Regions from separate parts of the Homo sapiens genome. Here region 1 is linked to region 2. The links come from fine-mapping of genetic effects on gene expression. A gene starts in region 2. The other region holds a variant in brackets. All regions are shown on one strand. Distances are between the middles of the regions. Region 1 overlaps SLC7A9 (solute carrier family 7 member 9). Region 2 holds the start of PDCD5 (programmed cell death 5).

Region 1 (5,380 bases), 270 kb after region 2:
TCCTGCCTCAGCCTCCTGAGTAGCTGGGATTATAGGCGCCCACCACGTCCGGCTAATTTTTGTACTTTTAGTAGAGACAGGGTTTCACCATGTTGGCCAGGCTGGTCTTGAACTCCTGACTTTAAGTGATCCACCCACTTCGGCCTTCCAAAGTGCTGGGATTACAGGCGTGAGCCACCACGCCTGGCCCATGTCATTCCATTTAGATGAAATGTCAAGAAAAAGCAGTTATAGAGACAGAAGTAGATTAGTGGTTGCCTGGAGCTGCGGGTGAAAGCAGGGATTAATTAGGCAATGAGGAAACTTTTTGGGGTGATGGAAATGATCTAGAATTGGATTGTGATGTTTGTACAGCCTTATAAATTTATGAAAATAATTGAGTTGTATAATTACAAAGGGTGAGTTTTATATTTGTACCTTAATTAGAACTGTTAAAATTGTGTTTGTGTATACTAGCAATAAACTATCAGAAACTAAAAATTAAGCAACTTTTTTTTAACAGTACCATTTACAATAGTATGAAAAATGAAATTCTTTGGAATAAATTTGACAAAAGATGTGCAAGAACTATATACCAAAAACTACTCAAAAAACTTTTTTTTACAGAAAATTAAGCCAGGCCCAGTGGCTCACGCCTGTAATCCCAACACTTTGGGAGGCTGAGGCAGGTGGATCACTTGAGGCCAGGAGTTTAAGACCAACCTGGGCAACATGGTGAAACCCTGTCTCTACTAAAAATACAAAAATTAGCCAGGTGTGATGGTATATGCCTGTAATCCCAGCTACTTGGGAGGCTGAGGCATGAGAATCGCTTGAACCTGGGAGGCAGATGTTGCAGTGAGCCAGGATCGTGTCACTGCATTCCAGCCTGGGTGACAAAGCAAGATCCTGTCTCAAAAAAAAAAAAAAAAAAACACCAACAAACAAAAAAGTTGTTAAAACAAGATTAAAGACCTAAATAGTCCACCCATGGATTGGAAGACTCAGTATTTTTTTTTTTTTTGGAGACAAGGTCTCACTCTGTCTCCCAGGCTGGAGTGCAGTGCAGTGGTGCAATCTCAGCTCACTGCAGCCTCGACCTCCTGGGCTCACACGATCCTCCCACCTCAGTCTCCTGAGTAGCTGGGACCACAGGCATGTGCCACCATGCCTGGCTAAGTCTATTGTACTTTTTGTAGACATGGGGTCTCACTATGTTGCCTAGGCTGGTCTCTAACCCATGGGCTCAAGCAGTCCTCCCCCTCGGCCTCCCAAAGTGCTTTGATTACAGGTGTGAGCCACCGTACCCATGCTGGAAGACTCAGTACTTTTAAGACAGCAGAGTCTTCCCCCAGTTGATCTATGGATTCAACCCAGTCCTGATCAAAATCCCAACAGCTTTACTATAGAAACTGGCAAGCTGATTGTAATATTCATATGCAAGTGGGAAAGCTGCCAGAATGAAATTGGACCCTTATCTCACCCCTTAGACAAGAAATCTACTCAAAATGGATATAAGACTTGAAACTGTAAAATTCCTAGGAGAAAACAGGCAAGCTCTGTAACATTGGTCTGGGCAATGATTTTTTGTTGTTGTTGTTTTTGAGACGGAGTATCTCACTGTGTCGCCCAGGCTGGAGTGCACTGGTGCGATCTCGGCTCACTGCAACCTCTGCTTCCCGGGTCAAGCAATTCTCCTGCCTCAGCCTCCTGAGTAGCTGGAATTACAGGCATCTGCCACCATGCCCCACTAATTTTTGTATTTTTAGTAGAGACAGGGTTTCACCATGTTGGCCAGTTTGGTCTCGAACTCCTGACCTCATGTGATCCACCCACCTCGGCCTCCCAAAGTGCTGGGATTACAGGCGTGAGCCACTGCACCTGGCCTTGGGTATATATTTGAATGAATTGAAATCATATGCCAGATACCTGCACTCCTATGTACCTCTGGGTATATATTTGAATGAATTGAAATCCACATGTCAGGTGTCTGCACTCCCATGTTCATTACAACGTTATTCACCACAGCCAAGACATGGACACAACCTAAGTGTCCATCACAGATGAATGAATAAAAATAATGTAATAGATACACAATGGAATACTATTCCGACTCTAAAGAGAATGGAATTCTGTCATCTTTTGACAACAGAGATGACTCTAGAGAACATTATGCTAAGTGAAATAAGCCAGACACAGAAAGACAAATATCCCATGATCTCCCTTATGTATTATGGAGTCCTAATTAGGGAAAATGAGTCAGGCTGGTGGGACCAAGGGAAAGCCAAAAGAGATAAGACAGATAAGCTACAAGCCCGCCTTTCTTCATGGTCCAGGACACATAGCCCCCCTGCACAAATAACTTACAAGCTTCCTGTGCCCAGTGATCGCCAGTCCCTCAGCTAATAGAAAAATGCAGCCGGGCGCGGTGGCTCACGCCTGTAATCCCAGCACTTTGGGAGGCC[A/G]AGGCGGGCGGATCACGAGGTCAGGAGATCAAGACCATCCTGGCAAACACGGTGAAACCCCATCTCTACTAAAAATACAAAAAAAAATTAGCCGGGCGTGATGGCAGGCACCTGTAGTCCCAGCTACTCAGGAGGCTGAGGCAGGAGAATGGCGTGAACCTGGGAGGTGGAGCTTGCAGTGAGCCGAGATCATGCCACTGCACTCCAGCCTGGGTGACAGAGCAAGACTCCGTCTCAAAAAAAAAAATAGAAAAATGCAAGTTAGCTCACTGCAACCTTGGCATTATCAGTACTGCACGTACCCCTGTCCAGCACACAGCACAAGCACCATCCTACAAAATCCCCAGCAAGCCTTTGTCTCTTTGCAGTCAGTTCCTCTCTTGCTGACCTGCTCATTGCACCCTTGCAATGTATTTTCCTACTTTCTGTAATAAATCTGCCTTTCCTGACCTACAGCTGTCTTGGTAAATTCTTCTTATCCCTGTACCACCAGCCCAGATAGTTGTAATCATCTGCAACATACATGAAATCTAAAAATTCAAACATAGCAATAGAGAGTAGAATGCTGGTTACCAGAGGCTGAAGGAAGAGGGGCCTGGGATGGCAAAAGGGGAAATGTTGGTCAAAGGCTACAGAGTTTCAGTATGATGGGAGGAATAAGCTCTGGTGATCTACTGCACAGCAAGGTGACTATTGTTAGTAATAGTGTATATTTCAAAATAGCTAGTGGTTTTTTTTTTTTTTTCTGAGACGGAGTCTTGCTCTGTTGCCCAGGCTGGAGTGCAGTGGCGTGATCTTGGCTCACTGTAAGCTCTGCCTCCTGGGTTCACGCCATTCTCCTTCCTCAGCCTCCCAAGTAGCTAGGACTACAGGCGCCCGCCACCACGCACAGCTAATTTTTGGTAATTTTAGTAGAGATAGGGTTTCACCATGTTAGGCAAGATGGTCTCGATCTCCTGACCTCGTGATCTGCCCGCCTCGGCCTCCCAAAGTGCTGGGATTACAGGCGTGAGCCACCATGCCCAGCCAGTGAATTTTTAATGTTCTCAGCATAAAGAAGTATGTGAGGTGATACATATGCCATTCCACAATGTTTACATGTATTGAAACATCACACTGTACCACATACATATATGCAATTATTGTTGTTATTTTTTAGAGGCAGGGTCTTACTCTGTTACCCAGGCAGGAGTGCAGTGGTGTGATCGTGGCCCACTGCAGCCTGGAACTTCTGGGCTTCTGGAACTACAGGCATGGGCCTCTACACCCAGCTAATTTTTAAATTTCTTTTTGTAGAGACGGAGTCTCACCATGTGGCCCAGACTAGTCTCGAACTCCTGGCCTCAAGCAATCCTCCTGCCTCAGCCCATATAAGCAATTATTATTTGTCAATTTAAAATAAGGCGGCCGGGTGTGGTGGCTCACACCTGTAATCCCAACACTTTGGGAGGCTGAGGCAGGTGGATCACGAGGTCAGGAGTTCAAGACCAGCTTGGCCAAGATGGTGAAACTCCGTCTCTACTAAAAATACAAAAATTAGCCAGGCATGATGGCAGGTGCCTGTAATCCCAGCTACTCCAGAGGCTGAGGCAGAAAATTGCTTGAACTAGGGAGGCGGAGACTGCAGTGAGGCGAGATCACACCACTGCACTCCAGCCTGGGTGACAGAGCAAGACTCCATCTCAAAAATAATATAAGGCTGGGCACGATAGCTCATGCCTGTAATTCCAGGGCTTTGGGAAGTGGAGGCAGGAGGATCACTTGAGCCAGGAGTTCGAAATGGGCCTGGGCAACATGGTGAAACCCCATCTTGACTAAGAATACAAAAGTTAGCTGGGTGTGATGGCACGTGCCTGTGGTCCCAGCTATTCCAGAGGCTGAGGAGGGAGGATTGCTTGAGCCCAGGAGGTAGAGGCTACAGTGAGCCAAGATCATGCCAGTGTGCTCCAGCCTGGGCGACAGAGTGAGACCTTGCCTCAAAATTAATTAGTTAATTAAAATTTAAATTTAAAATTTATAAAGAAATACAAAGGATCTAGCCAAAACGCTTTTGACAAAGAATGAAGTTGGAGGCCTAGCACTACATGTATTTCGGTTTGGCTTTAGAAGAATGATTTTATGGTATTTCATTTTTTAACATACACAGACTTTGTCAATTTCACTCTGAAATATATCCATTCAGAACACTGGACAACTAAGCCAAGACACGTGTTCGAGGATGTTCACTGCGGCAACGTTCATGGAAACCACCCACACCCAGGTGTGAGTGAAGGATTTGTTAAGTTATGCTACATCTGAAAGTGTGATACAACACAGCTGGTGGCAGTCTCTAGACCAGATGGGTCTAAAGGATTGGCAAACCACAGCTGTTTGGGCAAATAAAGTTTTATTGGAACATGACCATGGCTGTTCACTCTTGGGTACCAAGGCAGAGTTGAGAATCTGTGACAGAGGTTTATGCAGCCTGCGAGCCTGGAATATTTACCATCTGGCCCTTTAAGGGAAAGTTAGCCAATTCTGGGTTATTTATTAATTTGCTAATTAGCAAATTAGTTTGTATATATTAACATGGGGAAGATGTTCAGGAAATATCACTATGTGAAAAATATCACTAGGTGAAAAGGTAAAAAGTGCCACGTGGAAAACCAGTGCCTCATTCACGCGGTGTCGCTTCCCTTCGCCTCAGCATGGGCAGCTTCCCCCCCATGTTGGGAACTAGGGCCCCCTGGAGTGGAAAGGCTGAGATTCCAGGCAGCCTTGATCAATTCCCGTGTGCAGGCCCATCCATGCCTTCCTGGCCAGTTTGCGGTGTGGGTTCAAGCTACATCCCTTCTCTGGATTTGGGTCTCCTACTTGTACTGGCGTGGGTTTCGCCTGGCAGAACCCTGAGGATTTTAGCTGTGTGTCTTCCTCGGGGGTGATATTGCTTTCGCCGC
Region 2 (5,380 bases):
ACACAATCAACAGAATGTAAATCCCATGGAATGGGAGAAAATAGTTGCAAATCATATACTTTGATAAGGGATTATCTAAAATATGTAAAGAACTACTACAACGCAACAACAAAAAAAGAAAAGCAAATTTTAAAATGGGCAAAGGGCTAGAAGAGACATTTTTCTTTTCTTTTCTTTTCTTTTCTTTTTTTTCTTGAGACAGAGTCTCGCTCTGTCACCAGGCTGGAGTCCAGTGGCGCGATCTTGGCTCACTGCAACTTCCGGCTCCCGGGTTCAAGTGATTCTCCTGCCTCAGCCTCCTGAGTAGCTGGGACTACAGGTGCGTGCCACCACGCCCAGCTAATTTTTGTATTTTTAGTAGAGACAGGGTTTCGCCATGTTGGCCAGGATAGTCTCAATCTCTTGACCTAGTGATCTGCCCTCCTCAGCCTCCCAAAGTGCTGGGATTACAGGAGTAAGCCATCGCACCTGGCCTAGAGTAGACATTTCTCTAAAGAAGATATACAAATGGCCAACAAGCACATGAAAAGATGCTCAACATCACTAATCGTTAGAGAAATGCATATCAAAACCACAACACCTCACCTCATACCCGTTAGGATGGTTACTATCAAAAACAATCAAAAAACAAACAAACAAAAAAACAGAACACAACAAATATTGGTGAGGAGACGGTGAAATTGGAACCTTCATTCACTGTTGGTTGGAATGTAAAATAGTGCAGTTGCTGTGGAAAATGGTATGGCCATTCCTCAACACAGAATTATCACATTATCCAACAATTTCTCTTCTGGGTATATATCCAAAAGTGAAAGCACAGACCTGAACAGATATTTCTACACCCATGTTCATAGCTGCATTATTAATAATAGCCAAAAGGTGGATGCAACCTAAGTGTCCATTGTCAGATGAATGGATAAACAAAATGTGCTAGGTATATCCATACAATGGAATATATTCAGTCTAAAGAGGGAAAGAAATTCTGCCACATGCTACAACATGAATGAACCTTTAAGACATATGCTAGGTGGAGTAAGCCAGTCACAAAAGGACAAATATTGTATGATTCCACATATACAAGATACCCAGAATAGGCAAATTCATAGAAACTAGAATGAGAATGGGTGGAGACTGATTATTATTCTCAGACCCCTCCCACCCCCACCCATTCCCATTAGAGGCCCCTCACACCAACCTAAATCTTTACTGGGTAGAGTTCCAGTTCAGGATGATAAAAAAAAAAAGTTGTAGAGATTGATGGTGGACAAGGTGGTTCATGCCTGTAATCCCAGCACTTTGGGAGACCAAGGCAGGTGGATCACTTTAGGTCAGAAGTTCGAGACCAGCTTGACCAACATGGTGAAACCCCATCTCTACTAAAAAATACAAAATTAGCCGGGCACAGTGGTGCACGCCTGTGGTCCCAGCTACTTGGGAGACTGATGCAGGAGAATCGCTTGAACCCGGGAGGTGGAGGTTGCAGTGAGCTGAGATTGAGTGACAACTGCACGATAATGCATTTCATACCACTGAAAAGTACACCTAAAAATGGTGAAAATGGTAAATTTTGTATTGTGTATATTTTGCCACAATTAAAACACACAGGCCAGGTGTGGTGGCTCATGCCTGTAATGTTAGCAGTTTGGGAGGCTGAGGCAAAAGGATTGCTTGAGCTCAGGAGATAGAGGCCAGCCTAGGCAACATAGCGAGACCCCATCTGTATTTTTTTAATGTAAAAAATAAAATAACACACACACAGACAAACAAACAGAATCTGTATGAGTCACACGTTTAGGTAGCTGAATATCCTCTCTGCCCCCAATTCCCCCAAGTCAAAGGCAGAAGGGATTTGTTCCACCAAAGAGTTTACACCAGCCACAGCTGCCCACTGCAGTATCCTCCCAGGAAAAGCCCTTTTGTGCGTGGAGGAGGCAGATGGCGAGGAGGCAGATGTGCACTTTTTTTTTTTTTTTTTTTTTTTTTAGAGACAGGGTCTGGCTGTGTCTCCCAGGCTGGAGTGCAGTGGCGAGATCAAGGCTCACTGCAGCCTCGAACTTCCGGGCTCCAGCGATCCTCCTGACACAGCCTCCTGAGTAGCTGGGACTACAGGTGCACATCACCGCGCCCAACTAGTTTTTTAAAATTTTAGTAGAGATAGGCTCTTGCCATATTGCCCAGGCTGGTCTCTAACTCCTGACCTCAAATGACCCTACCGCCTCCCGAAGCGTCGGGACCACAGGCGGCGAGCCACCGGCCGGCCTCTGTGTGCACCGAGGAGCCGGGCAGCCACCGCCACGATCCAGCTTTAGGACATTTCCATCACCCCACTCAGCCTTCCTGCGCCCCTGGTTCCTCATCTATAAATAGAGATAATATACGCCTAACCCTCTAGGTCACCAGCACATTGCACCCATAATTATTATACTTGTTGATGCCACACTTTCAGGTTTTAACCTTTCCAAAGCGCAGCCCCGCCCCAGCGCAGCCCAAGTCCCTGCACGCAGAGGCGCCGATCACGGGTGGGAGGTGGATCCCGGAGGCCCCGCCCCAGGCCCCGCCCCTCCGTGCGCCCAAGCTCGACCGCCTGAAATCGGGGAATCGGGCCTCTGCCGGCGCCCTGGCAGCGGCGCGGGGCGTGGCTCCGGGCTGGATTGGTGGCGCCTGGGCCCCGCGAGCGCCTGCGCAGTGGTCAAGGCCGCGCTCGCGCCGAGGGGCTGCGAGAGTGACCGCGGCTGCTCCAGCGCTGACGCCGAGCCATGGCGGACGAGGAGCTTGAGGCGCTGAGGAGACAGAGGCTGGCCGAGCTGCAGGCCAAACACGGGGTGAGCGCATCAGCCCCCGCCAGGCTTGGCCCTCGCGGGGCGCCGCCCTCGCCCGGAGTGTAGGGCGCGCCTCCGGGGCGGAGGCTCTGGGCGCCTCCCCGGGGCCCCGGTCCCCTGCGCTGCCCTGGCGGCCTCGTGGCCGGCTCAGAGGTGGCCTCGTCGCTTTCCTCGTCGCGAGGGGCCCAGGAGGCTGGCGGCGGGGGCCGCCACGTGCGGGACCTGCCCTGGCGTTGGGGTGTGGGGTCCCCTAGCCTGGAGCGGGCTCGTCCTGGCGGGCCTGGATCCAAGCACAATCTCAGCTTTTGGAGCCAGCAGCCGGACCGAATTCAGTTTTTCCGGAGTTCAGTTGTTATGACCCAAGTTTAGCCGACAGGTATTGAGGGTCCGCTGTGTTCCCGGTGCTGAGAGCGCGGCAGGGTCGGAGGAACGCTTGCCCCGCCGGGATGACAGGGAGGGGCCGCCTGGGAAGCTTGGATGGATCACACGCCCGGAGAGGCGTTTCTGATAAGGGACCGGGACCTTAGGGACGGAGGGCGCAGTCTTTGAGTTATCGTTGTCCCTAATACCGAGGCCCGTTTTATTTTCCAGAAATTATTCCTACATGTGAAACACGGTTTCGTAATACAGGGATTCCCCTCCCCAGGGTGCTCTGTATTCCAAAGCCTTCTGAGGTTGTGGTTTTAGACGTTCATCAAAACGTTGTAAGTGGGAACTAGTTCATTGATTTCTGTGAGGCCCAGTTTCTTATTTGGGGAGTTGTTTCTACCACCGCAAGAGACTGTTATGTATAGGAAACAACAGAACCGTTCCTTTTTCCCGCCGCCTCCCGTGAAATTTCTCTATTAAATTTAAGTTTTTTTTTTCCAGGATCCTGGTGATGCGGCCCAACAGGAAGCAAAGCACAGGTATGGGCTGGAAACGTGAACTTTTTGAAGGGTGGTTTCACCAAATGGATTTCTTTTGCTGTAGTTATTTTAAGCAGGTGTGTGACTCAGATTTTTTTGTTTTGCTGGAATGGTGATTTGGCCAAAATCATCCGCAGGGTATCTTCATTATTGTTAAATAAACACGTGTGCAGCTCCACATCAGACCTTGTATTGCAATTACTGGTTGATGTTTCTCTGCTACAATGTGAGTACCTTAAAAATGAGCCTGATAATAGGCAGCTGTGGCAGTTTCCTCGGCTGTGGGGGTGACGTGAGTCCGGTGCCTCACTTAGTAAGTGCTCAATAAGTGTTAACTGGTAAGCTATTCTGATTGTTTTATCCCAACACAGCGCACAGCACCTGAGACAGATGCAGGTAATTGATTCGGTGGCAGGTTTATTGAATGAGTATGTGATTACCCTATCATGCTATCATTTTTTAAAAATTGTGGTTAAATAAAATTTCACCATCACAACCATTTTTAAGTGTGCTCTTCAGTAGTGTTCACACTCTAGAATGTTTTCATCTTGCAAGACTGAAACCTTTAGCTACTGGACAATTCTCTATTTCCCCTTCCTCACCTTCTTACTCCTCCTCTCCAGCAAATATTTATAGAGCACCTGCTCTGGGTCAGGCACTGTGCTGGGTCTACAGAAATAGGAAGGGAGGGTTCGGGAGAAGACAGACGGTGAGAAGTATCTGGAGTAGTGATAGGAAGTAAAACGACGCAAATTTCATTGATTTCTGCCGTGTACATCTTTTCATTGTCACATATCTGAAATCAGGATGCCTTTTAAAACAGATTGCTCTTGCCCCAGATTCTTCCAGAGGGGATTTACTTTTGACTCTGCTATCACTTGAGTACATTTCTGAGACCATTGAAAGTTAAATTCTCTGCTTGAGGTTTTCCCCTGCCTCCTGCCTAGTAGTGTGAATTCAGACAGCAACCCTGTAAGACTGAACTTTTTTCTTCTTTACGTCAGGGCCAGGTGCATGCAAGCTTTTGTACTGCCCCTTACTGCATGGCATATTTATTTATTCTTTACTTTGTACTGAGAATGTTGCTCTTTGATACCCCAGTGGTGGGATCAGAACTCACTGCAGCCTCAAACTCCTGCTGGGCTCAAGTGATCCTCCCACCTCAGCCTCCTGAGGAGCTGAGATGACAGGCGTGCACCACCATGCCTGGCTAATTTTTTTAAACTTTTTTTTTTTTTAATAGCCTCGCTATATCACCCAGGCTGGTCTCAAACTCCTGGCTTCAAGTGATCCTCCCACCTTGGCCTCCCGAGAAACCCCAGTTTTGAATGGAGATCTCTATTAGACCTCTCATTTTAGGGTTTTTCATTTTTAGAGATACGTAAAACTATGGTGTATCTTAGAATTGATGGCATCTTAGGGTTCTGTGATATAATAGTTTGTGGCAGGCCAGGTGTGGTGACTGAAGCCTGTAGACCCAGCTACTCAGGAGGCCGAGGGGGAAGAATCACTTGAGCACAGGAGCTTGAGCTGATCATAGCTGCAGTGAGCTGTGATTGCACCACTGTACTCCAGCATGAACAGCAGAGTGAGACCCCATCTTTTTTTATTGTTGTTGAGATGAAGTCTCACTCCATCACCCAGGCTGGAGTG

The links. PIP is the estimated chance that this variant, and not a neighbour inherited with it, causes the effect.
Region 1: its variant is fine-mapped to the expression of PDCD5 in coronary artery (GTEx, PIP 0.97).

What each region holds. Positions count from the first base shown.
Region 1 is chr19:32,853,022-32,858,401 of GRCh38, forward strand. All of the region lies in intron 9 of SLC7A9 (solute carrier family 7 member 9), which reads right to left. Among named protein-coding and RNA genes, the nearest start is that of SLC7A9, 14 kb to the right of the region's middle. The variant A/G (reference allele first, on the strand shown) is at 2,445.
Region 2 is chr19:32,578,506-32,583,885 of GRCh38, forward strand. PDCD5 (programmed cell death 5) reads left to right here and starts at 2,685. Exons shown (of 6, transcript NM_004708.4): 1 at 2,685-2,822; 2 at 3,690-3,727. The coding sequence starts at 2,757. RefSeq lists an enhancer at 2,135-2,224 and silencers at 2,435-3,164, 2,510-2,686.